Linked DNA regions of Homo sapiens: all the other regions are linked to region 1. Evidence: fine-mapped expression QTL. A gene starts in region 1. Each other region holds a variant in brackets. All regions are shown on one strand. Distances are between the middles of the regions. Region 1 holds the start of ELFN2 (extracellular leucine rich repeat and fibronectin type III domain containing 2). Region 2 overlaps ELFN2 (extracellular leucine rich repeat and fibronectin type III domain containing 2). Region 3 holds the start of LOC105373024 (a long non-coding RNA gene).

Evidence for each region. PIP is the estimated chance that this variant, and not a neighbour inherited with it, causes the effect.
Region 2: its variant is fine-mapped to the expression of ELFN2 in whole blood (TOPMed, PIP above 0.99).
Region 3: its variant is fine-mapped to the expression of ELFN2 in fibroblasts (GTEx, PIP above 0.99).

Annotation. Positions count from the first base shown.
Region 1 is chr22:37,423,407-37,433,863 of GRCh38, reverse strand. ELFN2 (extracellular leucine rich repeat and fibronectin type III domain containing 2) reads left to right here and starts at 6,385. Exons shown (of 3, transcript NM_052906.5): 1 at 6,385-6,566.
Region 2 is chr22:37,399,605-37,410,061 of GRCh38, reverse strand. The region is part of intron 2 of ELFN2 (extracellular leucine rich repeat and fibronectin type III domain containing 2); the gene reads left to right. Among named protein-coding and RNA genes, the nearest start is that of ELFN2, 23 kb to the left of the region's middle. RefSeq lists an enhancer at 6,739-7,487. The variant C/G (reference allele first, on the strand shown) is at 5,712.
Region 3 is chr22:37,322,706-37,333,162 of GRCh38, reverse strand. It overlaps LOC105373024 (a long non-coding RNA gene), which reads left to right and starts at 1,027. Exons shown (of 4, transcript XR_938232.3): 1 at 1,027-1,270. RefSeq lists a silencer at 2,361-2,655 and enhancers at 3,554-4,199, 4,647-5,846. The variant C/T (reference allele first, on the strand shown) is at 5,424.

The DNA.
Region 1 (10,457 bases):
GGGACAGAATAAGTCAGGCAGATGCAGAGATCTGAGCCTTCCTTCCTCCTCCTCCAGCTCTCCCTGGGGGTGTCTCAGAGGAGTCTCCTGGTTCAGAGAGCTGAGAGGAGGCCATCTGCCATGGGGCTGTAAACACTCGGCAGATCCCGCTTCTGTTGGAGCAGGCCTCGGGGTTGGGGGGAGGGGGATGGACACTCTCGGTCTGGCCCTTGCACCATTGGGTGGGGCAGCTCACCAGGACCCTCCCCAAGCACCTGCTTGTGACTGGCAAGGGGCTGGGCACCCATGGCACAGATCTGGATTAGATGGTTGAATTGGCTGAAAATGGCTCACCTTCTAGTGGAGGCAGCCGGTGTGTCAAAAGGGGTGTCCCCCATTGTCCTCCTGTCCCCTCCCTATCTGACAGCACACTCCAGGGCTGCTCTACCAAGACTGGCGGGGAGGCAGCCTGGCAAACCTCACCATCCAGTCATCTCAGCCCCAGCCAGGCAAGCAGGGTGCCATCAGCACCTCTAATAGGGTTCTCTGGGGTCCCTCCCATAGCTGGGTCTCTGGACCTACAGGCATCCACGTGGACACTTCAAAATATCCCCCAGAGTGTGGCCCTGGCCTTTGGTCCTCACAGGCACCCCCTCACTGGGGCCACACCTTCGGCCACCTTTGACTCTTGTCCAGCCCTAGGGTCTTTATGCACATTCTTTATGCATCATTAGCCTTGAGCTGCCCTTGGTCTATAAACAATGAAGACCATAGGCTCTCAGAATCATGGACTCCTAAGGAATCAGGCCATCCTGTGTTGGCTGCCACTCCTCTAGTTCTGTTTTCGTCTTTGATAGTCTGGATGCAGAACACAGAACTTCCTCAACTTCCCCAAATATAATTGATTGATCTCAAAACCACTGGCCCCCAAGAGGGCTCCTGATGGTACCTCCCTCCTGGGCTCCACCCCCTGTGTGGTCCCCTCACTACAATGAATGGGTCAGATCCATGGAACCAACGGGAAAGCAAAAATGAGTGTTACTTCTGAGGACAGGTCTTAAGAGACACAGGCTTCCTACTTGTTCTCACTCTGGAGAAAGCAGCCGCAATGTTGTGAGGACACTCAAACAGTCCTATGGAGAGGTCCATGTGACAAGACACAGAGGACTCCCACCAACAGCCAACACCACCCTGCCAGCCACGTGAGGGAAGCATCTCAGAAGCAGATCCGCCAGCCCCAGTCCAACCTTCAGATGGGTGGAGCCCCAGCTAAACATCTTGACTGCAAGTTTATGAGACATTTCAAGGCTGAATCACCCTCTCCCAAATGCCTGACCACAGAAACTGTGAAATAATAAGCATGTCATTTTGCAGATTTAAGCCACTGAGTTTTGAGGTAATTCATTACAAAGCAATAAATGACTCATAGGAGAAACACGCAGACTTTTCTGAAGGGAGTGGGGGGAAGGAGGTGGTAGGGAGACTGAAGTGGGGGAGGGGGCTCGTAATGTACACACCACAGCAAAAGAATGTCAAAATCCTTCCTAGAAATACATGTGTTCTTCGCAACTAGGCCTCCTGGGCGGGTCGGCTTCCCTCCCTGTCACCTTCCTCCCGACTTGTGGTCTCTTCTCTCTCCTACTCATTCTCCCCCAGGCCCCAGCATCTGACAACTACCTTCATCCTTGCATGCCCTGACCTGTCACAGTGACCAGAAAAACAAAACACTCCTAGATAAGAGGACCCACCTTCCCCAGAAGGCAGCTCAGCCCCCATCTCTTCCTAGTCCACTTGGCAGGGTTCCACCGTGGGCAAGGACCACGCTTTGCCTTCCAGGCCCGTCTTTTTCTTCCAGGCTCTGTCTCACCACTGGCTCCTGTCCTCAGCGAGCTGATGTCCTCAGTTCCAGTACTGGAGGCGCAACAGAAATGTGATTTTAGGTCTGGATCCAAAGGAGGAATGTGACACCCCGCACAAGCTCTGGGGTGTGTGTGTGTGTGTGTGTGTGTGTGTGTGTTTCTCTGAAAGAATCACTTTAACCTAATTTTCTTAGCATCAACTCAAAATGCCACTGAGACCAAGTGAAGAAAATTTCACCTAAGTACAAAGGGTAAATCTTGTTATTCACCTTAAACAATGCGTGAAGCTTTTAGCATTTCTATGTTCCTCTCACTCTTCCTCCTCTGTTCTCTAAGCTTTGAAGAAAGGACGACTTTCTGGAAAAAATGTCTTTCTAGTGACGTGGCCAGGGCAGTGGGATCATTTGGATGTGGGCCATGCTTGTTCACCTTGAAAATAAAGGGCACTTTCTGGTGAGCTGTCAGCCAGGGGCAGCTCCTGTGCACCTCTGGGAGAAGGCCGAGCAGATGGGGTTCTGGGATGCAGGGCAGGTGCCCAGCCCACCCATGTCACCTGGCACTGACATTTCGAGGATGGTTCTGCTCCGGTTAATTTTCCTGTGCACGCGTCACTCCACCCACAGCGCAATTAGCCCAGCTGAGGGCAGGAAGTGGTACCTGGATTCACATTCCTCCAAGACTGTCCATGGTGGTGGGGAGAGGAGAAATTAGGGCGCTGGTGGGAAGGGGGGGTGGATGCTGTGTGCCCGGAAGAGAACCTCCTAACGTCTAGATTGGTGGCTTATTAATAAGAATAATGTGTGAAAATGGCCTTGCACAGTGCCTGGCCCTGAGCGAGCCCCTGACACATGGTTGCTACTTGATAGAGGTGACCAAGTGAAGAATAAGCTGGGGGAGGTGGACACATAGAGAATGAATAATGACATGATGTGATGTGTGCTGTCACTGAAGCCTTGCAGAGTGTTCTGGGAGCCGGTGGAGAAGGAAGTAGCTCAGCCAGCTCAGTTTAGGAGTGGTCAGGGGAGGCTTCACTGAGGAGGCGGCTTTCAAGCAGTACCTGAGGATAGGTAGAAAGTAGACAGGTAGGGAAGGGATCTGAGAGGAGGAAAGTCCTCCCACATCAAGGGAACAGGATCAAAAGCACAAAGGTGTGAAGATGATGGGGTGACAGATCCAACTCCATCTTCTATATGGTGGCAGAAAGTGAGTCTGGAAAGGGCAGATATTGGTGTTGCTGGGACCCAGAACATATGTGGGATGATATTGAAGATGCTGGAGGAATAAATAAGGACCAACTGCAACGGGCCTTATTTAGGCAAGTTAAAGAGTTTGGAGTTTTGGTCAGGTGCGGTGGCTCATGCCTGTAATCCCAGCACTTTGGGAGGCTGAAGCAGGAAGATCACCTGAGCTCAGGAGTTTGAGGCCAGTCTGGCCAAAATGGGGAAACCCCGTCTCTACTAAAAATACAAAAATTAGTCAGGCATGGTGGTGGGTGCCTGTAATCCCAGCTACTTGGGAGGCTGAGGCAGGACAATAGTTTGAACCTGGGAGGCGGAGGTTGCAGTGAGCGGAGGTTGCACCACTGTGAGTGGAGATTGCACCACTGCACTCCAGCCTGGGTGACAGAGAGAGGCACTGTCTCTAAAATAAATAAATAAATAGTGTTTGGATTTTATCCTGTAGCAGAGAGGGCTTACCATTCATCTCTGTATTTATTCCTGAGGCAGACATCACCAATTGATCATGCCATTTTCTGCAAAGGGTGAGCACCTCTAGGCAGCTGCTGCCAATCACTTGTCATGAGAAAGAGAACATATTTGCCTCTGTGCATGGGCTCTGGGGAGCTACTGGAGGGTTTAAACAGATGGGTGGTGAGGGAGTTTGTTGCAGGTATCCAGGTGACGGCAAGCCTGGTCTGGGGCAGTGACTGTGGGAATGGACATGTTATTGCTTACGTTTGTCTCGGTCTTAACCATTCAGCTACGGATTCTAGGCAGTCTCCTGAGCTCCCCGCTCCCCGCATTCCCAGGTCCTCAGGGTTCCCTGTGTGTGTGTCTGTGTGTTTGTGTGTGTGCATTAGGTCTGCCTGGGCTTGATTTTAATAAGGAGCTTGCTATATGTCTGGAGCTGCACTATCTCACATGGCAGCCACAAGCCACATTATGGCTATTTAAATTTAAAGTAATAACAATTAAAATTAAAAATTTAGTTCCTCAGCCACATTAGCCACAATTCCAATCACTCAATAGCCACATGCAGTTAGTGGCTACTGTCTTTGACAGTGCAGACATGTATCCTTTCCACTATGGTCTAGAGAAAGCCCAGTCGAGTGTCTAGATGGTGTGGTCCACTATGACCCTCAGGCCAGGCCAACTCTATCTTCTATATGGTGGCAGAAAGTCAGCTAAGAGCTGAAACTCTTGTCAATGTACATCTGCCCAGTAAGGGCAAAGTCTCCAAAGGGAGATTCTTAGACCGTTTTAGAGCTTCAAACAAATTCTGACCAAATCCAGCCAGACCTGGAGGTCTCCAGGGAGAAGGGAGTGGCCGGCACTGTGCTGGGGGTACTGGCTGCTTTTGCTATATTTCTTTCACAAAGGAGGAAACAGGCTCAGAGAGGGTTGTGACTTGCACTCTGGAAGATGACTGGGAATGTCTCGGAAACAGAGCAGCAAGAGGCTGTTTTGCCACTGACTCCCTGGTATTCTTTGGGGTCATCACTGCTCAGTTTCTTGGGCAGGAGCGGATTAGGTGGCATCTGCCAGTGCCCATCTCAGAAAGTGTCTGGGCCTGAGAGCCACAGGGGGGCTGTTGGCTTGGGGAGCACTCTAATTTCTCGAGGGATCCGCCAGAGGGCGCAGAGGCCGTTATGTTCCGCCTGAGGGGCTCTTCCAGCAAGGTCTTGGAGCTGGGACCCTGCTTCTTGCCCAGCCTTGTCAGGGATACACACCATGTGTTGGATACCGCCCCTGCCCTGTAGGAGGGCTCAGTTTAGAGGGCAGAGACAGCACATGGCTTGTTTGGGTTTGCAGCGAGGGACCTTGAAGGATGGGTAGGAGTGTGCCAGGCAGCCTGGGGTGCAGGTGGGGAACGCCCAATAGTCCTTCTGCATACCCCAGGACAACAAGTGGCCTGTGACCCAGTGCTTGTCTGCCCTCCCAGCCCCATCCTGGGCCGTTCCCTGTTCTTAGTTGAAAGGAGGGAGGAATTTCTGGACAGACGTTCTTTCTGCTCTACTAATACCCAACTCCGTGGAGTTCCCTGTACACACATACAAAGCTGTTTCATGCCTCTGTGCCTCTTTGCACATGCTGTTCCCAGAGTCCAGGACACCCTTCTCCTCCTTCTTTAGCTGGCCAACTCCTACTCATCCATCAAGATTCAGCTCAGGCAGTGGCTTCTTCTGGGGAGTCTCCTTATTCCAGACCTGCATGAGATGTCCCGACGGGGAGTTCCCGCAGCCTGGACTTCATCTGCTGTGCAACACCTGAGAACAGGCGCTGGTGCATGCGGTCCTATAAAAGTGATGGAGAAGTACAGGGCCTGCTGGCAGCAGGCCTCCGACATGCAGCTCGCAGGGCCTCGGGAGGAGGTGCTTGCATGCCCAAGCACCAAGTTATAGGCCCCGGGTGCCAGGCTTCTTGCATCTTCCACCTCCTCCTCCTCCTCCCAGCATCCACCCCTTTGCAGGTGGCAGCAGGTGGCAGGGGCTTTGGCGTAAGGGGCGGGGAACTGGGCCTCTGGAAGGCTAATGAAGGTTCTCTAGCTACAGATGAGCCCAGTATCCCTTGGACCTACTCCTGGAGGGGTGGGGAAAGGCAGTGAGTGCCCTGGCACAAGGTAGGGGAGCGTAAAGTCTAATACTGTCTGTAGGCTCCCTGTGTAACCTTGGGGGAATCACTCCTCTCCGAACCTCAGTTGTCTGGCCTGTAAAATGGGAACGCAGCAGCCGCACTTCCCCAGTCGCCAGCGGTTGAACGCGGGACCAACCAGCAGGGCGCAGGCGGCAGGGCATGGAGGTACAAGGCGGAGAGGGGGCCCATCAGCGGAGGCGGAGTCCAGGGGGAGGGCGAGTCCAGGCGCACTTCGGGCGGCCCCGCCGCAAGTTTGCCCCCAGCTGTTGAATGCGCTGGCGGAGGCCGGACCCGGACCCGGACCCGGATCCCGCGGGGTGAGCAGCGCAGGGGGCCGCGGCCGGGACAGGGGTCCGCCAGGCCGGGGCTCGGGTCCGTGGGGCCGCCTTCGCCTCCCCGGGCGCTGCAGCTGCAGCGGCGGCGCCAGGCGCGGCCCCAGCCCCGCGGGCGTGTGTCTGCGAGCGCGCGTGTGTCCGTGGAGCGTGCGGCCGGCTCGGGGGCGGGAGCGGGCTTGCTGCGGAAAGGCCTGCGGAGGGCACCGGGAGCGGGCGGGCTGGCGGACGGACAGACGGGGACGGACAGACGGACACAGCCTGCCGCGGTCCCTGACGCGCGCCGCTTGGCCCCTCCCGGGCGCCCTCCCCGCCGAGGCAGGGGCAGAGGCGCGGCGGCGGGGAGGAGGGGGCGGCGGCGTCTGCGCGCACACGCGCGCTCCCAGACACACACACAGACACACGCGGGCCACCCCACGGCCACGCACCCCGCACCCACACCCGCGCTCACACTCACATTCACACTCACACTCACACGCGCAGGCCCCGCGGCCGCCGCTTCCCGGAGGCGGTGCTTGGCCCGGATCCCGGCTGGGGCTGGGGTAAGTGAATTCCTCTGGATCCGAGCGCCGCGACCGACCGACCGGGGAGACGGTGGGAGTCGGGGCTGGAGCCGGAGGGCACCCCCTCCGTCAGTGGGGGTGGGGCTTGGAGAGGGACACGGAAGGGGGGATGAGACGGGGAGAGCCACCCCCAGTGTCTCCTGGGTCTGGGGATCCCCGTGAGACCCCCGGGGGACCACCCTGCGCGAGGGAGGTGGTGGTGGTGGCGGTGGGCGGAGGCGGTGGGAGGACACCGAGGACGGTCGGTGAGGTGAGCGTTTCTGGGGGTGGTGCAGAGGCTCGATGGTGGACGGTGTGCCAGCCGGTGCCACACTGCACCTCTCTGCCCTCATCTTTTCGAATCGGGGGCCCTAACCCCTCTCTTTCACGGGGTGCTGCCGGGTCAAGGCATTCATCCTCTAGCTGGTAAGAGGGGTTGACGGGGTGGATGCCTTCTAGGGGAAGGGGGGCCAGGGTGGGGCTTGACGGCGGTGGGGTTGGTAAGACCAGAATTGGGGGGTGGGGACCCTTTCAGAGGCGCTGGCCAGGGACAAGGAGGGAGGCAGCCCAGGGAGGCGGCATAAATCGCAGACACTGCAGCTCTGGCAGGGCCGGGGCCACTGCCGGGTGTGTGTGTGTGTGTGTGTTTGTGTGTGTGTGCGAGCGCGTGCCAGTGTGTGTGTGTGCGTGCGTGTGTGGGCTCCAGCAGCTGTCAGGGGACGGGGAGGGGGTGGGTGTGTTGGCTGGTGGGGCGCCGTGTGCATGTGGAGAGGATTGTGCGTGCTGTGTGTGTGTGGTGTGTGCGTGTGTGTGTGGACATGGGGTGGACCCTGCTCTCTGTCTGTATACACACAAGCGCACACACGCACACTGTCAGTGGCCTGGCAGGATTTCCTCGGAATGTTTGGAGGGAAGGGAGCTGATGTGTGTGTGTGTGTGTGCGCGCGCGCGCGTGTGCATGCACACTCGGGGAGCTTGTGTCCAAAACAGAGGCCACAGGCCATGGTGTGTCAGGCGTGCCCAAGGAGGGAGACGAGAAGGGGACAGTGGTGCTGACCGTGCACTCAGCTGGGGAGGAACGTGGTACTCGGCACTTTCTGCAGCTCAGGGCTCTGTGCTGTGCCCCTTCCCCCTGGACTCCTCCCACCCAGCAGCTGCGGCTGGAGGGCACTGCCTTGGTCCCTTGCTGAGACGCAGGTGTTGGGCTGGAGTGTGTGTGTGTGTCTGGGCTGCGGCTGTCGCTATCAGCAGGCCAGGCTGTCGGAGTCAGAAAGCTGGAGGGAGTGGGGTGCTGGCAGCACCTGGAGGAATGTGGTGGAAGCTGTGGGGCGCGGACTGCCCGGCGCGGTTACCGAGAGGCGTTTTAATATGCAAGTTGCATCATGAGATGGGACTGGGAGTGTGTGTGTGTGTGTGTGTGTGTGTGTATGTGTATGTGCATGGCTGACACCCCTGTTCTCGTGGCCCGTGGACACCTGTGGGACGTGTCACGTCTGGGCCATCAGCAAAGCATGTGGGCATGTGTGTCCCCTGAGAGGGGTGCACAGGCAGGTGCTGTCCTGATGAGCCGGGGGCCCTGCAACTGTGTGGGTGGGGAGGTGGGTACCTCTGGGCCATCAACGCCTAGGCAGGAAGAAAGAGTGTTAATTGTGGGGACATCAGGAAAAAGTATGTATGTGAGGTCAGTGAGAACCTCAGGTGTGACATAAGCTCCAGGCCGCAGGTGACGTCACTGGGACAGTTTTGTCGGAGGTTGCTCCCCCCAGCCAGAGTGTGTAAATGTGATGTCACGGGAGTGTGTGTGGCCGAGTGTGGTTATGTCTCTTGTATATGAGGGGTGGGAAGGGGAGAGGGATGGAGCCTTAGGACGCGTGGCGTGGTCCCTCCCAAGAGGCCGCCTTTCCCAGCATCCTGAGTGGGCATGGGACCCCTTTCCTTAAGTCCTGCCCCCTGAAGAGTGCACCTTCCAGGACTGGAACCCCCGAAGGAGGTTCTCACATCAGCACCATTGGCTGCTGAACTCCTTTGCCAGGTGGGCCTGGAGGCCTCCAATGTGCTGCAGCCCCCTATCTGACCTCCCCAGTCCCTGTTTTCCTCTTCATCCCAGCCAGGCCCACCACCCCTGGGTGGATGTGCTTTAATGAGTGAGTGTGTCAGTGCATGTGACAATAGAAAATGGCCATAGCCAGGGAGCGTGAGGCCATTGGTTCGAATCCCATTTTGCTGCTTTCTGTGTTTTGTGATTTAAGCATTCGCGTCGCCTCTCTGAGCCTCAGTCTCTCCTCTGTAACATGGGGTGAGGGGTTAGAGAGGTGAAGGGGGTTAAGGAGACCATGGGCCTTGTGGGGGGCGGGTGCTGATGCCTGGCATATGGTGGGGGCTCAGTCCACGTGAGCTCTGTCCTCTCACCTCCTATCCCCCTAGCCCAGAGTAGCTGCTTTCCTGTTTTGGTTTAAGTCTAACTTTGCAAAGGACTTTCTTTTCTTTCCTTGGATTTCCACGGCAGTTCTTTGAGGTGGGTGAGTTAGCCACTATTATGTGGATATTTGACAGATGAGTAAACTGAGTTCTGGAATAAGCTGTCTGTTGATTTAATGTGAATTCCATCCCCCCCCCCGCCGCCCTCAGTGGCTACAGGGAGACACATTTGATTACCCAGCCCCTTCTCGAGGGGTACCTTCCTTTCCTGGAGAGATATGGAGCTATGAGGAATTGGTGGTGGGGTGCCAGGTGATGAGCCCAAGGCCAAGAGTCTCTGGCTGGAGGAGAGGCTGCTCTTGACTCCCAGGTCAGTGCTCTCTTGCTCTTCCACCCACAAGCTCCAGAAACAGTCAGCGTGATAGGAACGGGCACACTCAGCAAGCCTTCTCCAGTGGGGCGTGTCTAGGGCGGTCACTGGGGGCTCCATGCCTGTTCCTCAATATCCCCTGAGGTCTTGTAGGATGCTTGTTTTTGGCAGCAGAATTGGGTTCCAGTGACACCCCTGCCGCATCTGCATCCTGGCTGTGTGTGACAGAGGTCAGCCTCTCCTGTCTCTGTAAGAGGGTGGTGGCAGCTTCCCTTGCGGGTGTGATGTGTGAGTGTGAAAGGGTGACAACCGTGTGCAGGGCTGGGAGGCACACATTGCTGCTACCCTCACCTGCTCCGGCCACAGTGCCTGGGGGCCAAGCTCCTCTCTCGGTGCCCCCACCTGCCCCATGTTGTGACATGTGCTGTGTGGAGTGGATGGCCGAGAAGTAGGATTGCCTCGAAACCTGACGCTTCTTAGCAAGTTAGACCTCTTCAGGAGCTGTGTTAATCGTCTAGAAGGTTTACCCAGTCCTCTGCCTCCTGCCGTCCCAGCCCAATCCCTGATTAAATTAACCTTCTCTTGGCTCAATTACCACCTGGGGCAGAGGCATTGACATTATTACTGGAGATGGTGTCTGGGGGTTGGAATAATTGAGCCCCCTCTCCTTCCCCCTAGCTCTGCCGACAGTCCCCAGGAAAGCCCCAGAGAAGCCCTGAGGACTCAAGAGCCACCTGGGCAGGCTTGCTTATGCCTGGGGTGCCAGAGGAAGGGTGCTGGCTGCACGATGCTGCTGATTGAAATAGTAATAACTATAGTGATAATAATAATAATGATATCAGCTAATATTATTGAGCCCCTACTGAGAGCCAGGCCCGGTTCGAAGCTCTTTATGGGCGGCATTCGTTTAGTCCCACAAAAGCCAGCTGCAGCAGGCACTATTATTATTCCTCATTTTGAAGACAAGAAACAGAGAGGTTACAGACCAGTCCAGGGCCACACAGCGATGGAACCAGGACTGGAACCCTCGAAGGGAAACTCTCACATCAGCACCATTGGCTGCTGAACTCCTTTGCCAGATGGGCCTGGAGGCCTCTACATCT
Region 2 (10,457 bases), 24 kb after region 1:
TTGTGCATTTGCTGGGTTTTGGAGCATGTATGTGTAAAACAATGCATAAGTATACAAACCCCCTTATACCTGGGGAACTGGCACATGCTCTCGGCGTGCACAGCAGAAAGGAATGGGCCACTGCCTGTTCCCAAGGCCTCCTCCCCAGAGGCTGTCACTGACCCGTGTTTCCTGGTACCTACAAACACACGTACACCATCTGTTCTTACCCAGGAGGGATTCTCCTCGCAGCTGGCCCTGCACCCTCCTGCGGCCCCTGATTGCACCCTGAGCACCCTTCTCAGGGGTGCGGCGGGACCTGGGTCCTAATCCACTTTGGAATGGGCTTTTCTTGAAAGGACATTTCCCTGTTGTGAGTGCCTGGGCTGTTTGCACTTTTTCTACTTTCACCCACTTCAGATCTGAAGTGTCTGACTGCAGAATCAAGCTCCTCTGACCCGGCACGCTGCCCTGGGGCACGGGTGGGCTGGTTTGAGGGGATCTGCTTCCAAGGCTAAGTGTGGACATCTGGGCTCCTCTCGCTGTTGGCTGAGCACTTTAGGCAGGAGCCCATTCTGGCTGGGATTCCTGCCTGCGGGCTCCCTGGGACTTGGGGAAAGGTAGGGTGTGGGGGTCCAGGGCCAGGACCCCTGGCTGTCTCTGGGGACAGAGTACCCAGGGACTTGGAAGGTGGTGCCGGGAGACCACGCTGTTCCCTGCTGTTCTCCACCTGCTGCATCCCAGGATCACTGGGCACTGGGCTCCTTGGGGCCACAGGGAGCTGCTTCGGGGCCCAGGAGCTTCCCAGGGTCCTTGAGTGCCCACAGGAGTGCCCGGGCCTTCCGGAGCTGGGGGTGGGGCCGGGTAGGCGAGTGCCAGGCACAGAGGAGGGAGGTGCAGGTGATGGAGCAGGGTCTGGGGCCTGGTCCCTGGCCTGTGGCTCTCATCCCTTTAGTCTTCCTCACAGGCTGTCTTTCCGCCTTGGGGCTGAGCCTGGGCCAGTCCTGGGACTTTTTTGTTCCCTTGGCCAAGCTGGAGATTCCTTGATGCTGTAGGGAGAGAGCCCTGGACAGGGAGTCCTGAGTCCAGCGTTCGAATTGCAGCTCTGTCTCTTGCCTTCTGTGGAACCCAAGTGTCAGGCCATTCACAGAGTCAAAGGGAATCATATCTTCCTTATATCAACACACCATGTGCCAGGCACTGCTCTAAGAACTTTATAGAACTTAGCAAAATCCTCACAACAACCCAGCAAAATAGATACTGTCACCATCCCTACTTGACAGGTGGGGAAACTGAGGAACAGAGAGGTTAAAGATCCTACCCACAGCCACACAGCGACTCGGTGATGAAATCAGGATTTGAAACTGGCCATCTGAACCTGACTGCCTTGCTGTGTTGGGCGCCCTTGGCAATCCCTGGAAGGCCAGTTATTGGGCAGAGCTGGTTCAGGCGGGTGCCCTGGTTTGAGCCTTGAGAGTGGTCCAGGAAGAAGGTCCTGGCATATGGTAGGGGTGGCAGTTTGGGATCAGGCCCGATTTGAGTGCCTAGCTGATTATTTACTGAGCAAGTGACTTCACCTAGCGGAGCCTCAATTTCCCCATCTGTAAAACAGGGTTAACAGCACTTCCTTGGCAGGGCTGTTGTGAGAATTCCGTGCAGTGAGGCTCAGGCGCTCAGCACATGGTGGGCCGCTGCCAAGGCCCCATGACCAGGTGGGAGGGAGGCAGTTCAAGGGACGCCTGTGCCAGCAGAGCTGAGTGTATCCCCTGGAGTGCGGGCCGCAGATCCCGTGATTGGGAGCTGATGGGCCCTGGGGTATGTGATGCCCCACCCCTCTCATCATCAGGCACATACCTGTCTATCTGGTACATCCATTGTGCAGCCGGGCCCAGGACTGGGGACATGGTGGTCATCTGTCTGTGTATGTATAAATGTGTGGGCTAGACCGCAGCCCCTGGGGGGATCATGCAGACATTCTCATGCACACACCCGGCCTGGAGAAACTCGTGAGAACTCCTGCTTGTGGGACTGAATCAGCCTTGGACAGCATCTCATCCAGCTCCCGCGCTGTGTGCATGAAACAGAGGTCCAGAGAAGGGAGAGGGGTTGCTCTGAGGTCCTCCATGAGTTGGGATTATCTGCAGTTTAATTGCTGGGTGGGGCCTTTTCTCGCTTTCTTTTTTTTTTTGAGACGGAGTCTTGCTCTGTCCCCCAGGCTGGAGTGTAGTGGCGCGATCTCGGCTTACTGCAAGCTCCGCCTCCCGGATTCATGCCATTTTCCTGCCTCAGCCTCCCGAGTAGCTGGGACTACAGGCGCTTGCCACCATGCCCAGCTAATTTTTTTTTTTTAGTAGAGATGGGGTTTCACCATGTTAGCCAGGATGGTCTCAATCTCCTGACCTCGTGATCCGCCCACCTCAGCCTCCCAAAGTATTGGGATTACAGGCATGAGCCACTGCGCCTGGCCGCCGGGTGGGGCGTTTTCTAAAAAATGCTGCCATAAGCCCTACCTGTGGTGGCCCCATCGCTTGTCCACATCCTATGGGTGGACTCTCTACAGAGCACGTTCCTCTATCTGCCAAAGCCAAGGCACTTGTTTCTTGATTTTCGTGTTGACTCCCTGGCTCCCCCATCACAGTGAAAGCACTGTGAGGCTGGGGACCTTGTCTGTCTTGTTCACGAATGTGCCTGTGGTGCCAGCACAGAGCCGGCTGCATGATAGTAGGTGTTCAACAAGCATTTGTTGAAGAATAAGTGGCCCTGTGGTCACGTCTGAAATGATTTCCAAAAATCGTGCCCTCCAGCTCGCTTGTGGTATAGCCTGAATTTCAGAGGGGCAAGGACTTTCCCAGAGCCTGAGCAGGTAATTGAACGCAGGCTTCCTGGCTCCCAGTCCCGAGCCCTCTTGTTCTGGTGTGCTCATGTACACATACGACACACACACACACGCACACACACAAGCACACACAAATGCACACACCCAGTAGGCCATGATCCAGAAACTTCCCTCTGATCATTGCTCAATTATCCAGCTTCAAATTGTCCATCTGTCCTCTTGGCCAAGGCCATGGGCTGCATGCCTACTGGGGCACCTGTTCTGGGCCTCTCCCAAGCCTGTGGCTGCCTGGAGGATGGGGCGGGAACCTTGGGAAGGTGGGGCTGTCCAGGTGACCACGGGTGCATTGCCTGCTTTGCCCAGTGGACTCTGTCTCCTGCTTCTGACCACGTCTCCTTCATCCCACCCTGAAATTCCACCTGCCCAAGCCTCCCTGTCCCCCTGCACCACCACCCTCCCATTGCTGGGCTCTCAGGCTTTAGGGGAAAGGGGTGTCATTCCCAGGGACCAGCTTCCCCCTCAGCCTCCCCCAGGAAGTCTGCCCTAATGCCCGGGAGGATGGTAATTAGTATGAGGCAGGCTGATTAGCTCAGAAATTAAGTCTTTGTTTCCCTCGCTCCCCAGTTTCCCTAATTGAGCAGATGCAGAGCGGGGGACGGGAGGGGCTGCTAGTGGGTCACGGGGCTGGGGCGGCACACGCGTGGCTGTGTGCTTGCTGCAGGGGCGGTGGGAGTGGGGGGTGGCATGGATGGGAGGCACTGTCTGGGGGTCCCTTTGCTCTCTGCCCTTTCCCTGATGGGGGAGCGCCAGGGAGGGTCACCTGGGGGTGAATCCCGAGATGTGCAGCCCTCTGGGGTGTGATTGAGCTGACAGGCACCACACCCCGGCACTCCGTTGTGAGTGCTTGTATGCAGTCATTCGTCCCCGTGTCCAGGTCTTCATATCCAATCACCGATCGTAACTGCTGTCACTTGTTGAGCACCTGCTGTGTGCCATCACTGGACTGGACAACTTTCACGTATCACCTCGTTCAGCCCTCGGGACAATGGTACAGATAGGGGACCCTTGTTTTTTATTTTTCATTTGTTTTATTATTTTATTTTTTGAGACAGGGTCTCACCCTGTTGCCCAGGCTGGAGTGCAGTGGTGCAATCGTGGCTCATTGCAGCCTCAACCTCCTAGGCTCAAGCGATCCTCCCATCTCAGCCTCCAGAGTAGCTGGGGCTACAGGTGCGTCTCACTATGCCCAGCTAAGTTTTTAAAAAACTTTTTTGTGGAGACAGGGTCTTACTATGTTGCCCAGGCTAGTCTCAAACTCCTGGGCTCAAGTGATCCTCCTGCCTTGGCCTCCCAAGGTGCTCAGATGACAAGCGCGAGCCATTGTGCCTGCCCAGGACCACCCCCCCTCCACCCTTTTTTTTTTTCCTAAAGGGAGGAACCTGGGGCTCAGAGAAGTGAGATGACTTGTCCAAGGTCACACAGTTCGGAGAGGCCAGGAAAGGGTTCAGATCCAGGTAGTCTCATGCAGCCCTGTCTCAGGCTAAGGGGGCTATTTGGGCAGGGAAAGGGGATCCTGCGATCACGTGGTGGTCAGTTCAGGTCCTGGATGCTAGGTTGAGGCCTTTGTCTTTCTTGTTTCTTATTCGGGCATCAGCACATCCCCCTTCTTGGGTCACTGGGAGGAGCAGTGACAATAACTGTAATGACAGCAGTGATGAATTATTTAGTGCTTGCTATGTCCCAGGCAGGTGACCCATGCCTGACATGTTTTCTTATTTCATGTTTACAGTGACCCCATGAGCCATGGGGTTGATACCTTCACTATCCCCATTTTACATTTTAAGAAGCTGAGGTGGCCAGGCATGGTGGCTCATGCCTGTAATCCCAGCACTTTGGGAGGCCGAGGTGGGTGGATCACCTGACGTCAGAGGTTCAAAACCAGCCTGGCCAACATGGCGAAACCCCCTCTCTACTAAAAATACAAAAATTAGCTGGGTGTGGTGGAATGCACCTATAATCCCAGCTACTCAGGAGGCTGAGGCACAAGAATCGCTTGAACCCGGGAGGCGGAGGTTGCAGTAAGCCGAGATCACGCCATTGCACTCCAGCCTGGGCAAGAGCGAGACTCCGTCTCAAAAAAAAAAAAAAAAAAAAAATGCTGAGGTTCAGGGAGGTGAGGGGCCTTGCCCTGGTTCCACAGTTGGTAAGTAGGGGACCCAGGATTCAGCCCAGGGCCTGAGGCCCAGTCCTTCCTTCTTGATCACCAGCAGGTAGCTGGAACTCCTGTGTCTCTGGGGCTCAGCTAAGGATCTGGGGGGATGGCCCTCCTCACAACAACCTATGTGGTAGGTATTGCTTTTATTCTCATTTTACAGATGGGGAAGTTGAGGCTCAGAGAGGTGAAGTGACTTGCCAAGGATCCCATAGCTGGTGAGGTGTTGGGTTCGGGCTTTGAACACAGGCAGATGTGGCAGGCTCCTGAGCACCAGCATCCACTCCCAGCTGCTGCACCTGTCCCTGAGCGCTGACCCTCCCAGCCTGGGTGTCAGCCGCTGCTGTCGGGCCAGCATCTTAACAGCTGTGTGCAAGGGATGCCTGAGTCTCCATCCTCCACTGTCACCTGCCTCTGGCTGTAGGACATTGCGTGTGGCCACCTGCTGACTGGTCACTCCTTTGGGGTGTTCCTCTGACCCCTAAAGCTCAACTGGCCCCACCCGGGCTCTGCCTCTGTCCTCCTGCACTGCTATTTGCCCATTCTCTGAGGCTCCCTGTTCCAGGGCAGGCACTACGCTCACTCAGCCACCCACCCAGACCCTGGGTGGCATCCCTGAACTCCCCCCTTGGTCTCTCTCTCCATCCTGCCCGACTCTCTTCGCTAAGCCTGACTCAAATCTGC[C/G]TTCATGTGCCCACCCTGCTGTCCTTGCCTGCACCAAGTCACCCTCCAGGCCCGTCTCGTTGCAGCCTCCTCACAGGCCGCTGGCGCCATTCCCGCCCCTCCGATGCATTCCAAACCCTTCCATTGGTGTCACCCCCCCAGCATGTCACTGGCTCCCCACTGCCCTTGGGCCAAGATCCAGAACCTTGAGATCTGCAAGGAGTTGGCTCGGCCTCGGGGCTCCCTCTCCTTCTGATGTTCCATTTATCTTGATCTCAGTTCTCCTGACCTTGTTCCAGTTCCTCAAAAGTGCCACCTTCTGGGTACCACATACGTGGTTCCCTCACCAGAATCACCCTCAGCAAAGCCTTCCTGGACCCCAGGACAGATGAGGCCCCTCAGGTGTCCTTGTGCTGGGGACGTCCCTCTCTTTCTCCCAAGAGCCCTTTGAGGGGAGTGGTGTTGCCCATTTTACAGACAGGGAAGCTGAGACTCAGAAGGCTAAGCTGGCAGCCAAACCCAAGGCTCTCTCATTCTGGGGCCTGTGGTCTCCTCGGCGTGTGCAGGTGCGTGTACACGTGTGCATACACGGCGGGCACCGCCGATGGCTGGCTGTGTGAGACCTCGTTTGGGCTGAGATGATGAGCCTCGTTGGGGAGAGGAGGTCCCGGATGGTCTCTGGGTGCCTGGCCTGCCTTTTCTGCCTTTTCCTGTGGTGGGGGTGAGGGCCTGCTATGTGAATTTGGGGCGAATGTCAGCCCCTCGCTAGACCCCGAGGCCGCAGCCTCCCAGGCCCTCTCGCTTCTCTCCCTTTGCTTCAAAACAAACACCCGGGAGCCCAAACCGCCCATCCAGCCAAGGCACAGATGGAGTTGGAATTAATTAGTCCTGTTGCCCAGGCAACCGGGACCCAGACCAGGATCCAGTCTTCTCTCGGCCCATCCCCACCCTCCGGCCCCTCGCTCGCCTTGCATGGCCCCGCCCCTTAGGAGCCTGGCCCTGCCCTCTGCCCTAGGGATGCCCTCGGGGACTCCTCCTAAATTGGGAAGGTGGTGGTAGGGATGTCTAGGAGCTGGGTTTCACTCTGGGCTTGGTGGGACCTTGGGCAAGTCCCTGCAGTGCTGGGAGCCTAGCTTTGTTCTGCAGAATGAATGGATGGACAGGTGCACCTGCCTGGGGGTGGGGGGAGGGGCATCATGGAGTGATACCTCATGGGGGACTTGCGATTGGTGAGAGAGGGAAGAATGAAAGTGGCCTCAGCTTGGGATGTTGTTGGGGAAGATGTAGCTGGTAGTAACTGGGATAGGCTGCGGCTATGGCTTTTTCTGCTCGATGCCAGCAGGAGGGGGCAGTTGTGGGCAAGTGAGGCATGGTCTCTGGCCCGGGCCATTCTTGGAAGTGGGCTCAAGTGGAGGATGTGGAGGAGACCTGAAGGGAACAGGCCACCTCTAACCCCCGTCTCCTATCTTTCAGAGTCCCCAGTGCTGTGCTCGGTGCACAGCAATGCCACCCTGGCTTGGCATGCCTCGGGTTGGCTGGGACGAGGCCCAGCTCATGCTCTGGCTTCTGCTCAGCCTCCTGCCTGGTCCTGGGACCCACCGAGCCCCTGGAGGCTGAACACCATCTCTCCTGCCACCTGCGTAACTGGCCATTTATTTGCTCCTCCAGCTGCCAGGGAGGCTTCCCTGAACCTGTCGTGGTGGCACAGGGGCTCAGGAGAGAAGACAGGCTGGGACTGGTGGCTGCACTCTCACCTTGGCTCCACAGCCCCTTCCTTGGGAACTGTGGGCAAGTTGCTGCCCCCCTCATGAGCCTCGGTTTCCTTATCGGTCAGCTGGGCCTAGTGATGCCTCTAGTGAGATCACCAGTTGGAAAGGCTTTTGAGAGGCAAGAACTAGGGGTGGGAAACTCAGACGCTCACCGGGGCCGGGTCACTGCAAGGCGCACGTCTGGTCTGTGTAGGGCAATAGGGTGTGGTGGGCCTGTGGCAAACTCCAGCGGTCAGTTTGGATGGCATCAAAACTCAAATGTGTGTCAACACGGAGTCTGCCAACAAAACCGAACCACAGGCTGCCTTTGGAGCTGCCAGCTTGCCCCGGAAGACAAACTCTACAAATGGATTAACCGGAGGGTATTTAACTCTTCTTTACATAATAGCATGGGCTAACATTTATTGAGGGTTTGCTCTGTGCCAGAGACAACTAAGCACTTTACTTGGATTATCTCCTCTGATCCTCCCAGGAACCCCAAAGCAGGCAGGGTGCAGCTACTGTTCCTACTTCATAGATGAGGCAATTAAACCACAGAGAGGTTAAGTCAGGAGCCCAAGGTCACACAGCTGTGGAGGAGGGAGCAGGGCTCACTCTTGGGCCTTCTGATTCCTTATCTGGGGCTTCTTCCTTCAGCCTCCCTGGGGCAGGTTGAGGCAAGGGCAGACCCCGCAGGCAGGGAAAGATGGAAGACGGAAAAGACAAGCTTTTCCCTTGTCGCCAAGGAGGCTGGGGGCGGGGAGAGGAGAAGCAAAATTAAACAAACGAAGGGTGTTGTGGAGCTGGGGAAGAATAACTTATTTTTTATGGGCTTGTTAACATTTGTGAAGTTAAGTAAGCAGAAATTTATGCCCCTCGTTTGCATGCATTAAAGGGAGGGCTGCCGGGCCGGCTTGGTTACTGGGAAACCTCACGCGCCTCCTAGGGCGGTGGCCCCCAGGCTCGCATTAGGCAGCTCCTGTGCAGGGATGGTTTGTTTGGGCTGTTTCTAGTGATTTCTGCAGGTCCAGCTGGGGCCGTGTTTCCTGAGGGCCCACTGTGTGATTGGCCTACCCTGGCTGCGGCCTCCTCCCTCCCTGCTGGGAGTGGAGCAGCTGGCCTGAATCCCATCACAGTGGCTTGGCCCTTAGTTCACTGGCTGAATGTTCTAGAAACTGTTCCAAGCCTCCTCAGGGACCTGAGAATGTGCAGGAGGCCCCATGACCACCAGCTTTGCTGCCTAAGAGCTGTGAGACCTGAGGCATGTTGCTTTGGCTCTCTGGGCCTCAGTTTCCTCATCTTTAAAATGAGGACAATGATAGTGTTATATATACTGCCCAACTGTGTGTCCCTGTCTTAGACACTGCCCACCTGAGATGACACTGGCTGGTTGGGGAGCTGTGCTCCCTTTGCTAGTTGACCTGCTTTTTGGAGACCCTTTGTCTCCAATAGGCCTGAGAGCTAGGTGACCCTTCCTCTGGAAGACCAGGCAGCCCCACCTGGCCTAGGCCCCACGGCCCCCGCATGTTCCGCTTGTAATTCCTGGTACCCTGTTTGACTGACTCCCTTGGAGCCGTGGGCTTCCTCAGGGCAGTGCCATGTCTGTTGAGGTCATTGCCAGTCCCCTGCACCGTCCCCAGGACTTGGCACAGAGCCAGGACTTGAGAATCGGTATGAAATGAATGACTGAATGAAATACTTAACCTGTGACCGTTTTCGCCACTTAGGGATTACAAGTCCCTTCCAGGTGTGTAGTGATTTATGGGTTTTGAAAGCACTTTCAGGCTAATGCCCTCGTTTGATCTCCACCTTTAGATCCCTCTACAAGAAGGCAAGGCAGGGCCTGTGTCCGGCATGGACTCTCTCACGCTTTTATTTGTTCAAGGAAACTCTTGAACTCCTGTTCTGGGCCGGGTGCTGGGACCCTGGCGGGGAGTGAGGCCATGTCCTTCCCTCCAGGGGCTCAGGGGCTGCTCCCAGCAGGCGTGCCCACCGAGGGTGGGTGGGGAGGCTGAGGGGGCCTTGGGGAGTCCTGGCACCCCTGCAGGCCTCAGGCTCCCATCTGTCTAATGGGTGACAGCGAAGAGGTTTAAGCTCTTCCAATTCTGCCAGGCTGTGATTCTTGGTAGTCAGGTTTGGTCACCAGGCACCTGCTAGGAGGCCCTAAGATGCCAGAATGCCTTTGCCCCAGCCCTGCCCAGGCAGCCCTGGCCCTCCAGGTGGCTGAGGTGCTCCTCAGGCACAGGTGTGTGGGCCTCCGGGGGTGAGGGGAGGGGACAACTGCCCCTGCTGCTACCCCCAGGCCCGTGTCAGTGGGGGCAGCTCTCTGTCCACAGTGGGAGTCGGCCTGTGGACAGAAGGTGAAGTCTGATTGGACCGGAGTGGGGTGGGATGGGGGTAGACACGAGGGGGTGGGTCAGCATCTCTGAGTGGAGTGGAGGGTGGTTGAGGCCCCTGACCTGGGAGGATAATAACCCCGCCTTTCCTTACATTCTTCTCCCTTGCACTCCCTTGCCCCTCCCGGTTTCCTAGGGACCTGCTGCATGGGCTGGGGACGTGGAGGGCTTGGCCTTTGGAGGCAGGGAGGGGGTGGTTGCAGGCCTCACCCTGCAGCAGCCTGGCTTTGGGCAGTTGTTTCCCTTCTCTGTGCCTCAGTTTCCTCCTCTGTCCTTTGCGAATGATGCTGGTTTGAGGGTTCAGTGGGTGCTGAGGAAGCACGTGGTCAAGCTCTGCAAGCCCTTCCTTCTTTCATTTACCAGGAGGAGCAAGGCGGCCATGGCGGGGAGGTGGTGGCTGGAGCAAGTGAGTGAGGTGGGAGGTGAAGAAGTGAAGTCTGGGAAGATTTTGGATACTATTCCAATCTCATGGGAGCCAGCAGCCGGTGAGGGCAGAGGCCGGTGGCCCAGGTGTGCGACGCAGGGGGCTCAGTGGGGGTGGGAGAGGTGGGCTGATGGTCCCCGTGGTCGGTGGAGGTGGGAGAGGTGGGCTGGTGGTCCCCGTGGTCGGTGGAGGTGGGAGA
Region 3 (10,457 bases), 100 kb after region 1:
TCCATCCCGCCAGTCTCTGCTCCCACTGGGATTCCTGCCCAGCCTCTGTCCACTCCGAAGGCTGGGATGAGCGTCTAATGACCGTGTGCAGGGAGAAGGTCGGGGGCAGGTGAGGAGCAGGCAGCCTGGACCCTGCCTCTAGTGGACAGTCCCCATCCCCTTGTCTGACCCCAGGGTTGGGGGGGCCTGCCTCACTTTTCTGAGCTGACAATTGTAGGGTCTCTTGGATGCTCCCACACACTTCGAGTGCCCACAGCTCCCCCACGGGGTACCCGGGAAGGAGAGAAGCGGTGGTTGCGGGGGAGAGGGACGGCAGGAGTACAGGAGTGAGGCTTAGCTGTCTATGGCCTTGGGGGGCTTATGTTCTTGTCCTGGCTCCTGAGAAGGAACGGTTTGGGAGAGGAACTGATTGAAATGTACTTTGCGTTTCTGGAAATTGAAATACTCAATTTGAGAGCATAGCGGCAATTAGTGTTTAATCACAGGAGGATAGAGCATGGGTGGCTGTGCCTGAGCTGGGGAGGACGGGTGGGCTGATTACCCGTCCTGCTTCCTGCTGTGGGGGCTGAGTCCCATTCCTCCCCTTCCCTAGGACAGATTAAAGGTGTAATTTGATGAATCAATTTGTTTTCTGGAGGAGAGAAGGGAGAAGCAGAAATCTCATAATAGCTGGAAGCAAGTTGCTCCATCCTGTCCTACAGGAGTCTTCATCAAGGAGCCAGGGGCGGTAGGGAGGCAGACCCAGTAGAGGAGGCCTCAGTGGTGTCTTCCTTTGAAGTCATGCACACCTGAGTTCAAATCCTGGTTCTGCCATTTACCAGCTGCACGACCTTGAGAAATCCACTTAACCCTCCACTTCCTCATTTCTAAGAAGGACAGCCCAGCAGGGTAGCTGGGCTAATATTTAATATTAGTCAATGTGCCTTCTGCAGTGTCTGGCACTTAATGGATGATCTATAAAGGAGAGAGGATACTGGGGGTAGGGAGGGGTGGGCTGAGACAATTGACCCCTGCTGGGCTGGACTTGAGGTTCACGGCCACATGGTTCCCTGTGCAGCGCCCCGTGGGTCCCAGCAGACACAGCACCATAATGGGAGACTTCTAGGCCGAGAGGGCAAAAGCTTCAAACAGCAGGCGGCAGCACCAGCTGTGTGGTGGCTGGGAGCTGGTCTAGCCTCCGCCTTCCTTCCAGAAGTCTCCCCAGCATCCTCAACCAGGTCAGATCCCCCAGCATGACTCAACATCCCTTCGACTTCCCTTCTGCAGCCCTGTAAGTGCTGGGGGTGCTGTATGTGGTGGTGGGCACCTGGCATGCCAAGTTCATAGCAGGTGCTCTGTCAGTGCAGAGCTGGGCACTAGTGGCCCAGGGTGACAGGCTTTGGCTGGCTGGAGCAGGGCTGGGTCAGGGTCGGGAGAGGCTGGGCTGCAGCAGAGACAGCTCAGGTCTGAGTCAGACAGACCTGGGTTCAAATCCTACCCATCCCTCCCAGTGTTGGGGTAGGGGGCAAGTTGCTGCCCTTCTCTAAATCTTATTTGTAATTTGCTTTCCTGGGCTGGTTATTAAGAATAGTAGAATTTGTCTTCTACCTTCTCCTGGCAGGTGGATGCCTTAGCTCAGCTCCAAGGGACAGTTTTGGGTACTGAGAGGGAACAGGGATGGGGAAGGTGGCCTCCCTTTTACTGAGTCCATACCAGGCCCTGTGTTAAGCTCTTTATGCACTCTGAGTCCTCATCACTCCCTTGTAAGGCAGGAGTAATTCTTTCCATTTTCCAAACAGAGAAACTGAGGCTCAGAGAGGTTTCCTGGCTTGCTTAGTCTCAGCAGCGAGGAGCCAGTTGTTGAACGTGGGGTTGTGTGACTCAGAGCCTGGGCTCTGTCCAATCCCAGCTGGCAGTGGGGGAAGGAGGGGCCTGGGCGGGAGGCTGCAGCTGGGCGTGGGTGGGCAGGTGGGTGCAGAGGCCCATAGATGCTGGCTAATGGGCCCTGGTGGGCCCGGCGCTAATGGGCCCTGGAAGTGCCAGGCGTAGATTTAGTGGGAAGGCAGGTGCTGGCTGCAGTGGGCCAGGAACTCTTCTGCCCCTCCTTTCCCTGTCCCATTCCTCAGGCCAGGGAGGAGGGGGAAGGAGATGGGGGCTCAGGGAGGGGGCATGCACCTAGCTTTGCCACTGACCCTACAGCTGGGTCTCAGCTTTCCCTTCTGCCCAATGGGTGAATCATTCCCTCCCCTCAGGTTTTGTTCTGAGTACCAAGGGCCATACTCTGTAGGAATGAATGCTGTAAAAATCAGGGGGCCACTGAAGTAGTGACCCCCACCCCAAGAAAATGCTCTTTCTTTGGAGACTCTCAGGGCTTTAGGGATAGAAGCAGGTGTGCCCCAATTATGCCAGTTTCCCTTTTCTCCTCCCCGCCCCCAACCCCTGGCAGTCCTAGGTGAGGGACCGCACAGCCAGGCCTGAGTGGGTGGGTAGGTGGCGCTGGCGCAGCCAAGAAGTGCCTGCTTCTGATTGGAAGGCTGGTTTCCATGGCGACCGATTGATTGCCCAAGCTGCAGACTCAAGGGGAATGAGCAATGGGGCCTTTCTCCCAAGCTTCACTGCTCAGGCTTGGGCCTGGAGGCCAAGGCAGGGGTGACATCTTTGTGTCCTGTCAGGGACAAGGGGCCCACTAGGGAACAGAAGGGCACCTCAGCCCAGAAGCCACCACTGGGCACCTGCTGTGTGCACATTCTGAGCTAGCAATGGAACAGGAGGAGGGGACCTAGCATTTATGAAGCAACTACTATGTGAAAACGAAGCTGCTGGGACTAGAACCTGGCCCAGTGGAGTCCCAAGCCTGTGAGCCTAACCACCAGGCTGTGATGCTCGTCCATGCTGCTTGTGAGGACTAAGCACATTTATGGGACACCAGCAAGCATCCTTGGACCACCAGACTGTAACCCCGCTCACACCAAGCTCTGAGGGTGAGGGTGAGACAGTCATTGCTGAGGGAGATCAGGGCTGGGGTGAATGTTGGAGGAATTAGGGAGGAGGATTAAATGTTTGGGGTGAGGGTAGGGAAATAAAGGCACCCCAGGCAGGGCACTGGCTTGGGCAAAGGCAATGAGGTGGAATGAGCTGGCCGTGTGGCAAGAGTTGGCCCCTCCACCTGTGATGTGGACTCGAAAAGGAGGGGCGGCCGTCTCTCTGATTGTTAGCTATGCAGGCCTGTGCCAACCACACCCTACCTCCCCTTTTACCCCTTTCCCATGCCCGTCTTCCCACCTATTCTGTCCATTCTGCCTCCCCCTCACTGGGGCCTGGGTGAGTCCCTGGCCCTCTGGCCACAGAGGTCCCACCGGCCAAAGGAGAAGGCTGGCACCAGTGGGGCTGCCTCCAGGACTCCAGCAGGGGATGGTTTCTCCCCGTCCCCTCCACGGTCTCTTCTCAGATTCCTTCTTTCTTCTTTCTCTCCCTCTTCCTTCTTCCCTGCACGCACCACCCCCTCCAACAATATTCTCACTGTCTCTTTTCCTGCCCTGGGGGTGATTTTGTCCGATTGATTGCCCAAGCAATCTGAATTGCTCTGAATCAGAAATCTGACTGGTCCCTGCCCCAGCCCCATCTCCATCGTGAACCCCATCCCCTGGTCCCACCCTGCCGCTGCCCTGCTCCCTGGCTCCTGCCCTGCCTGGCTCTGTCCCTCTTCATCCCAAACTCTCACTTGGCCCTTGGTACTCAGGACAAGACCTGAGAGGGGGAATGATTCACCCATTGGGCAGAAGGGAAAGCTGACACCCAGCTGTACAGTCAGTGGCAGATCACTGCCCTGCTCCTATCCCTGCTCTGCCCTGCCTGCCTGCCCCGTCCCTGTCTAGCCCCTCCCAAGCCCTGGCTTCATCTGAGCCTCTGCCACAGTCTTAGGTTCCCAGATGGGCTCGCTTAGGTCCTGGCCTCATTGTCATTCTGTCCACGCCAGCATCAGTCGGTGGCTGCAGGCACTGTCGGGGGTGAGGGGGAGAGAGAGAGAGAGAGGGAGAGAGAGAGAGAGAGGGAGAGAGAGAGAGAGAGAGGGAGAGAGAGAGAGAGAGAGAGAGAGAGAGAGAGGGAGAGAGAGAGGGAGAGAGAGAGAGAGAGGAGGAGAGAGAGAGAGAGGGAGAGAGAGAGGGAGAGAGAGAGAGGGAGAGAGAGAGAGGGAGAGAGAGAGAGAGAGAGAGAGGGAGAGAGAGAGAGAGGGAGAGAGAGAGAGAGAGGGGAAGAGAGAGAGGGAGAGAGAGAGAGAGAGGGAGAGAGAGAGAAAGAGGGAGAGAGAGAGAGAGGTTGGGGCTGCAGGTTGCGGGGAGCTGTAGGTCTGCTCTCTGAGCCTCCTCTCAGAAGGACAGAAGTGTTGTGTACAGGCTGGAAATAGCTGTCCATTATTGAGTACCTACTGTGCGCTAGAGAGGTTACAGTATCTCTAACCTCACAGCAGCCCCAGGAGACAAGTAAAAGGGACTCTTCCTCTTTACTCCAAGAGCCGAATTGACATCTCCATAGTAAACATTGGCAGGATTCATTTGGGACCCAGGTCCTCCTGGTCAAAGCCCCTGCTCACTGCCTTCTGCTGTGGGATTTGGGAAATGGGGTAGCTGGTCCCTACTGCAGGTGCCCCTGGATTGCTGAAGCCCTGTAAGATCTCCAAGGATGGCCAGGGCCCCCACAGGCACAAATGTGGGTAGGCTAAGGAGGAGAAACAGGGAGGGGGAACTGCATGAATGGAGGCTTGGAGGCCAGGACTGCTTCGGGAAGACTGTATGGGAGATGCAGCTTGAGACAAGGTTGCGGGGGTGAACCAGAGCCATTTCATATAGGGCTTCAAGACTTGAAGACCAGGCTGGGCCTTGACAGAGAGAACCTGGGAAGCATCTGAAAGTTGTTGAGCCAGGGAGGGAGATGATCCCAGCTATATTAATTCCTTCCTTCCTCCGTTGACTCATTTATTAAAAATTTATTGTCTTCTCCGCGGCATGCCTTTGCTGGGACTGGTGATTCAGAAATACTAGTCATAGGCCGGATGCGGTGGCTCACACCTGTAATCCTAGAACTTTGGGAGGCCGAGGTGGGTGGATCACTTGAGGTCAGGAATTCAAGACCAGCCTGGCCAGTATGGTGAAACCCCATCTCTACTAAAAATACAAAAATTGGCCGCGTGTGGTGGTGGGCGCCTGTAATCCTAGCTACTTGGGAGGCTGAGGCAGAAAAATCGCTTGAGGTGGAGGTTGCAGTGAGCCATGATTGTGCCACTGCACTCCAGCATGGGCAACAGAGAGAGACTCTGTCTTAAAAAAAAAAAAAAAGAAAGAAAAAAGAAAAGAAATACTAGTCACAGTTCTGGCCCTCAAGAGGCTCACAGGCTCACCAGGAGAAACTCATGCATATTCATAAAGGTACCAAAGTCCCACTGGTAC[C/T]GAGATAGGTTTGTATACTGGGGCAGTGGGAGAAGGGGGAGAGACCTGGAATGGCTTCAAAGGCTTTGGTCCTGAACTAAGTCTTGGGGGTCAAGTAGAGGATGCAAAGCCCATTGGACTGGGAATAAAGAAGGTTCCAGGCAGAGAAAACTGAATGGGCAAACATCTGGAGGCTTGATACAACCTGCTGGGCTCAGGGAAGTGCTAGCAGTTTGGGTGTTTGGTGGAGGGGGGTGGCTCAGCACCTGTGCTGCACTGGGGATCCAGGGAGGAGGCAGGTGACCCTGGCTACAGAGTCGGGGATGAAATGAAGGGGGGAGCAGGGAGACCTGGAAGGAGATGATGGAGGCTAGAGTTGAAGGAATGGAGAAAGACTGCAAAATATCCACCCATCCATCCATCCATCTAGAAAATGTTTGCTGAGGCCGGGTGCGGTGGCTCATACCTGTAATCCCAGCACTTTGGGAGGCCGAGGTGGGCAGATCACCTGAGGTTAGGAGTTCGAGACCAGGCTGACCAACATGGTGAAACCCTATCTTTACTAAAAATACAAAATCAGCCGGGCATGGTGGCGCATGCCTGTAATCCCAGCTACTTGGGAGGCTGAGGTAGGAGAATTGCTTGAATCCAGGAGGCAGAGGTTGCAGTAAGCTGAGATTGCGCCATTGCACCCCAGCCTGGGCAACAAGAGTGAAACTCCGTCTCAAAAAAAGAGAAAGAAAATGTTTGCTAAGAACCAGTGTGGGGCAGGGATTGTGCTGGGTGCTGGAGGTGGAACCGGTCAGGCTGGGTCACTGACGGGAGAGGGTGGCTGGAGGCCAGGTTGATAAGCTTGGAGTGAGGACAAGCAGGATGAATGGGGGCAGGGGATGAATATCTTGAGTTCAAAGTGCATCCACCCAGGTAGCCGTGATTCGGGATGGGGAGGCAGCAAGCAGCAGGGGCTTGGCAAAAGTCAAAGGCATTTCTTTTTCTTTCTTTCTTTCTTTTTTTTTTTTTTTTAGACGGAGTCTCACTCTGTTACCCAGGCTGGAGTGCAGTGACACAATCTCAGCTCACTGCAACTTCTGCCTCCTGGGTTAAAGCGATTCTCCTGCCTCAGCCTCCCGAGTAGCTGGGATTACAGGCATGCGCCACCACTCCTGGCTAATTTTGTATTTTTAGTAGAGATGGGGTTTCTCCATGTTGCTCAGGCTGGTCTTGGATTCCTGATCTCAGGGGATCCGTCTGCCTCGGCCTCCCAGAGTGCTGGGATTACAGGCGTGAGCCACTGCACCGGGCCGGTCAAAGGCATTTCTAAGATGGGTGCTGCCAACTGTGCTCAGGGCTTTCCCAGCCTTCACTTCATCCTCACTTAATGGCATTCCCATCTGTCCAGGTGAGAAAACCGAGGCGTAGAGGCTTCATCGTTGCCCCATTATTGCAGGGATGGGCAAAGCTTTTCTGGAAAAGGCTACATAGTAAATATTTTTGACTTTACGAGCCATGCTTCTTGGTCAAAACTATTCAACGGTGCCACCGTAGAGGGAAAGCAGCCATAGACAGTACCAGAAATAAGTGGGTGTGGCTGTATTTTAATTAAAAAAGTGGATGAACATGGAAATTCAAATTTCATATAATTTTCACATGTCAGGAATTTTTTTTTTTATCTTCAGAAATAGAAAAAACCTAGCCGGGTGCAGTGGCTCATGTCTGTAATCCCAGCACTTTGGGAGGCCGAGGAGGGTGGATCACCTGAGGTCAGGAGGTTGAGACCAGCCTGGCCAATATGGTGAAACCCCATCTGTACTGAAAATACAAAAAAATTAGCCGGGTGTGGTGGCCCGTGCCTGTAGTCCCAGCTGCTTGGGAGGCTGAGGCAGGAAACTTGTTTGAACCCAGGAGGGAGGGGCTGCAGTGAGCCGAGATCGCACCACTGCACTCCAGCCTGGGCAACAAGAGCGAAAACTCCATCTAAAAAAAAAAAAAAAAAAAAAAAAAAAAAAAGAAAGAAAGAAAAAGAAAAAGAGAAAAAAAAGAAAAAAAAACATGCTTGGTTTCTGGTTGTACCATAACAGTTTGACAGGATTTGGCCTAGGGGCTGTAGTTTGCCCACCCCTTGGGGGATGGTTGGGAGGTGGCAGAGCTGGGGTTCAAACTAGGTTCTGCGAGCCCACGGGCTTCTGGACCAGATCAGCTCCAAGTGTGTGCCGGACCTCAGCCCCCTGGTCTTTCCCTTTCGGGTTGGTTCTCCCATCTTGGGATGCACAGAGCATCCTGCTTCTACGCTGCCCATTTTGGGCAGGAGGCAGTGTGCCGGGCAGGCCAGGGGATCTGAATCCCCCAACTCGGAAAAGGGTCCCCGCCCAGCCACTTGCCAGCTTGGAAGACTGGAAACCTCTCTAGGCCTCAGTTTCCCCACCTGTAAAGTGGGGCATAGCAGATAACTCACCCGCAGGGTCGCCGTGAGGCTGCAGTGAGAATATACCTTGAAACGTCTCCCCACCCCGCGGCTGCCTCAGTTTCCCTCCTCCCCTCCTTGCCTCTGAGCCTGGTCTACACCTGCGCCGCGGCCTCTCCCACCTCCCCCACCGCCGTCCCCCTCCTTAATGCGGAGAACGACATCCTGGGTGTCTCCCAGCTGCCTCCTGCGCACGGACGGTTTCTCGAAAGCTTTTAAAAACGAGGCTCCCTCCCGGCGGCGGCAGGGAGGGTGGGAAGGGGGGCGCCCACCCTCGGGAGCTTCCCCGGTGGGCGGCGGCGGCCGCTCCCAGCCTTTTCGGGAGATCTCTGGCTGATTATTATGGAAATCAGGCCCCAGCAGCGCGCCCGGGTGGCGCGGGAGCGGGAGGCGCTTGGTGCGGCTGAGACGCGCTGAGGACCCGCTCTGCCAGCCAAAGGAGCGGTGCGGGGGAGGGGGCGTGGGAGCTTCCCGCGCTCCTGGGACACGCGTGGCCTGTTCTGGCCCGGGTGCCCGGGTGACACTGTTCCCGCGCAGGGCCGATGGGCTGAGCTGCAGCCGGAGGGGCTGGGGTCGCGCACGGAAACCTGGGCGCCCAAGTCTGGGAGTTCATTTCCGCCGGGACCTGGGCCCTTGATATCAGCGGTGCTGGATATTTTCAGTGCAATTAAAGGCAAAGGCAGTGGGGTTCACGCCACCACCCCAGGAACAGAACTGGGGCGTGTAATGAGCTCAAGCCCTGTGTACTGGGCGCGTGTACTCGGCGTCCAGCACCGACCTCAGGGCGCTGATCTATTTAAATCCTTCCGTTGACTTGGGCATGGTCAGGCCCATTTTATGGATGAGACAACAGAGACCCAGAGAGGCAAAGCTCACACGGCCAAAGCAGTCGAGGAGAGACCTGAGCTGGGAGTTGTCCAACTCCTCTGGCCAGTTCTTACACCTTCGGTCATCCTGTCTCCAACCTGAGGATGATGCCTTTGACCTTCCAGCCGCGCATCCAGCTCTGGCCTGCCCTGTGCCTCTCTGCGGGGGGACTCTGCAAATGGGGAGAGAGACAGCGTGGCTAATGTCGAGGAGAGCTGAGGGTGGTGGGTTGTCCTGGTGCTGAGGGGCTCTTGGTTTCTGACTATGCCTTCTATCACCACCACAGGGTTTGAGTTGAGCCAGGATCCCCCACCCCCACCACCCCTCAAGGTGCAGGAAATCTCATCATTCAAAATCCATTTCCTTTATATTGTCACATTCTGGAGAAGGGCTCCAATCTAAGCTTAAAAGTGATAGAGAAAATAAAAATGGGAAAGTCAGATGGATTCGGCCACTTTGTAAGCCAGAAAAATGGCCCCAGCAGACAGGTGAGCAACAGCTTTGGAAAAATCTCTAGCAATCAAGAACGGCCATGGGGGTTTATCTTTGCTCTGTAATGATCCCAGGCAGACGGAGAGGAAAGGCAGAGAAACCTGCAGGTGAATGGGCAAAGGGCAGGAGCGATGATTCACACTAGAAAGGAAACACAAATGCTTAACCCTCACAGGGAGAAAGTCCATTCCCACTCAGATATGAAAGGAATACAAATGTTAATCAATGCAGTTCCATTCAAACTCACAAATATTTTAAAACATAAAGTTATTTAATTTACCGCTGAATAACTGTAACTATTTTTAACTGAACTCATGGTTACCCTGGTAGTCCATCCTCCCAACTGCTCCAATTCACAGATAGGAACCTAGGCTAAGAGAGGCTAATTGCATAATTTGCTCCAGGTTAGACCTCTGGTGAGTAGCTGAGCAGGGTCACCTGTTCGGTGGCAAAGTGGTGGCATCTGGCCGGGCGCGGTGGCTCATGCCTGTAATCCCAGCACTTTGGGAGGCTGAGGCAGGTGGATGACCTGAGGTCGGGAGTTCAAGACCAGCCTGACCTATATGGAGAAACCCGGTCTCTACTAAAAATACAAACTTAGCCAGGTGTGGTGGCACACGCCTGTAATCCCAGCTATTCAGGAGGCTGAGGCAGGAGAATCGCTTGAACCCGGGAGCTGGAGTTTGCAGTGAGCCGAGATTGCACCACTGCACTCCAGTCTGGGCAACAGAGCGAGACTCCATCAAAACAAACAAACAAACAAACAACAAAAAAACCCACAAACAAACCACACACACAAAAACGCAAAGGTTAGGCTTCATCCCAGCCCCCGTGGATCAGAAACTCTGGCGCTAGGGACCAGCAATCTGTTTTAAGGAGCTCTCCAGGTGAGCTGGAGGCTACAATTAGAGAATGACTGCTCTGGGCTCCAGGAGAAGGTAAGGAAAGCAGGTACGTGCTTTCGCTGCAGAAGGCAAATTGTATTGTTTCAACCTTTTTGAATTACCTATGGATAACAGGTATTGTGAGCCTGTAAACGGCCACCAATGGCACCTCTGAGAAGCCACTGAGAAGTAGACATGGTTTTATCCATGGAGGTATTTAAGACAATGTATTTATAAACATGGAATACTGGAAACAGTCTGAGTCTCCAGCAATAGGGGACTGGGGAGAGAAACCTTGGTTCATCTAAAAGATGGCTGCTGTGCAGTTTTGAAAAGTGAGTGTGTAAAGAC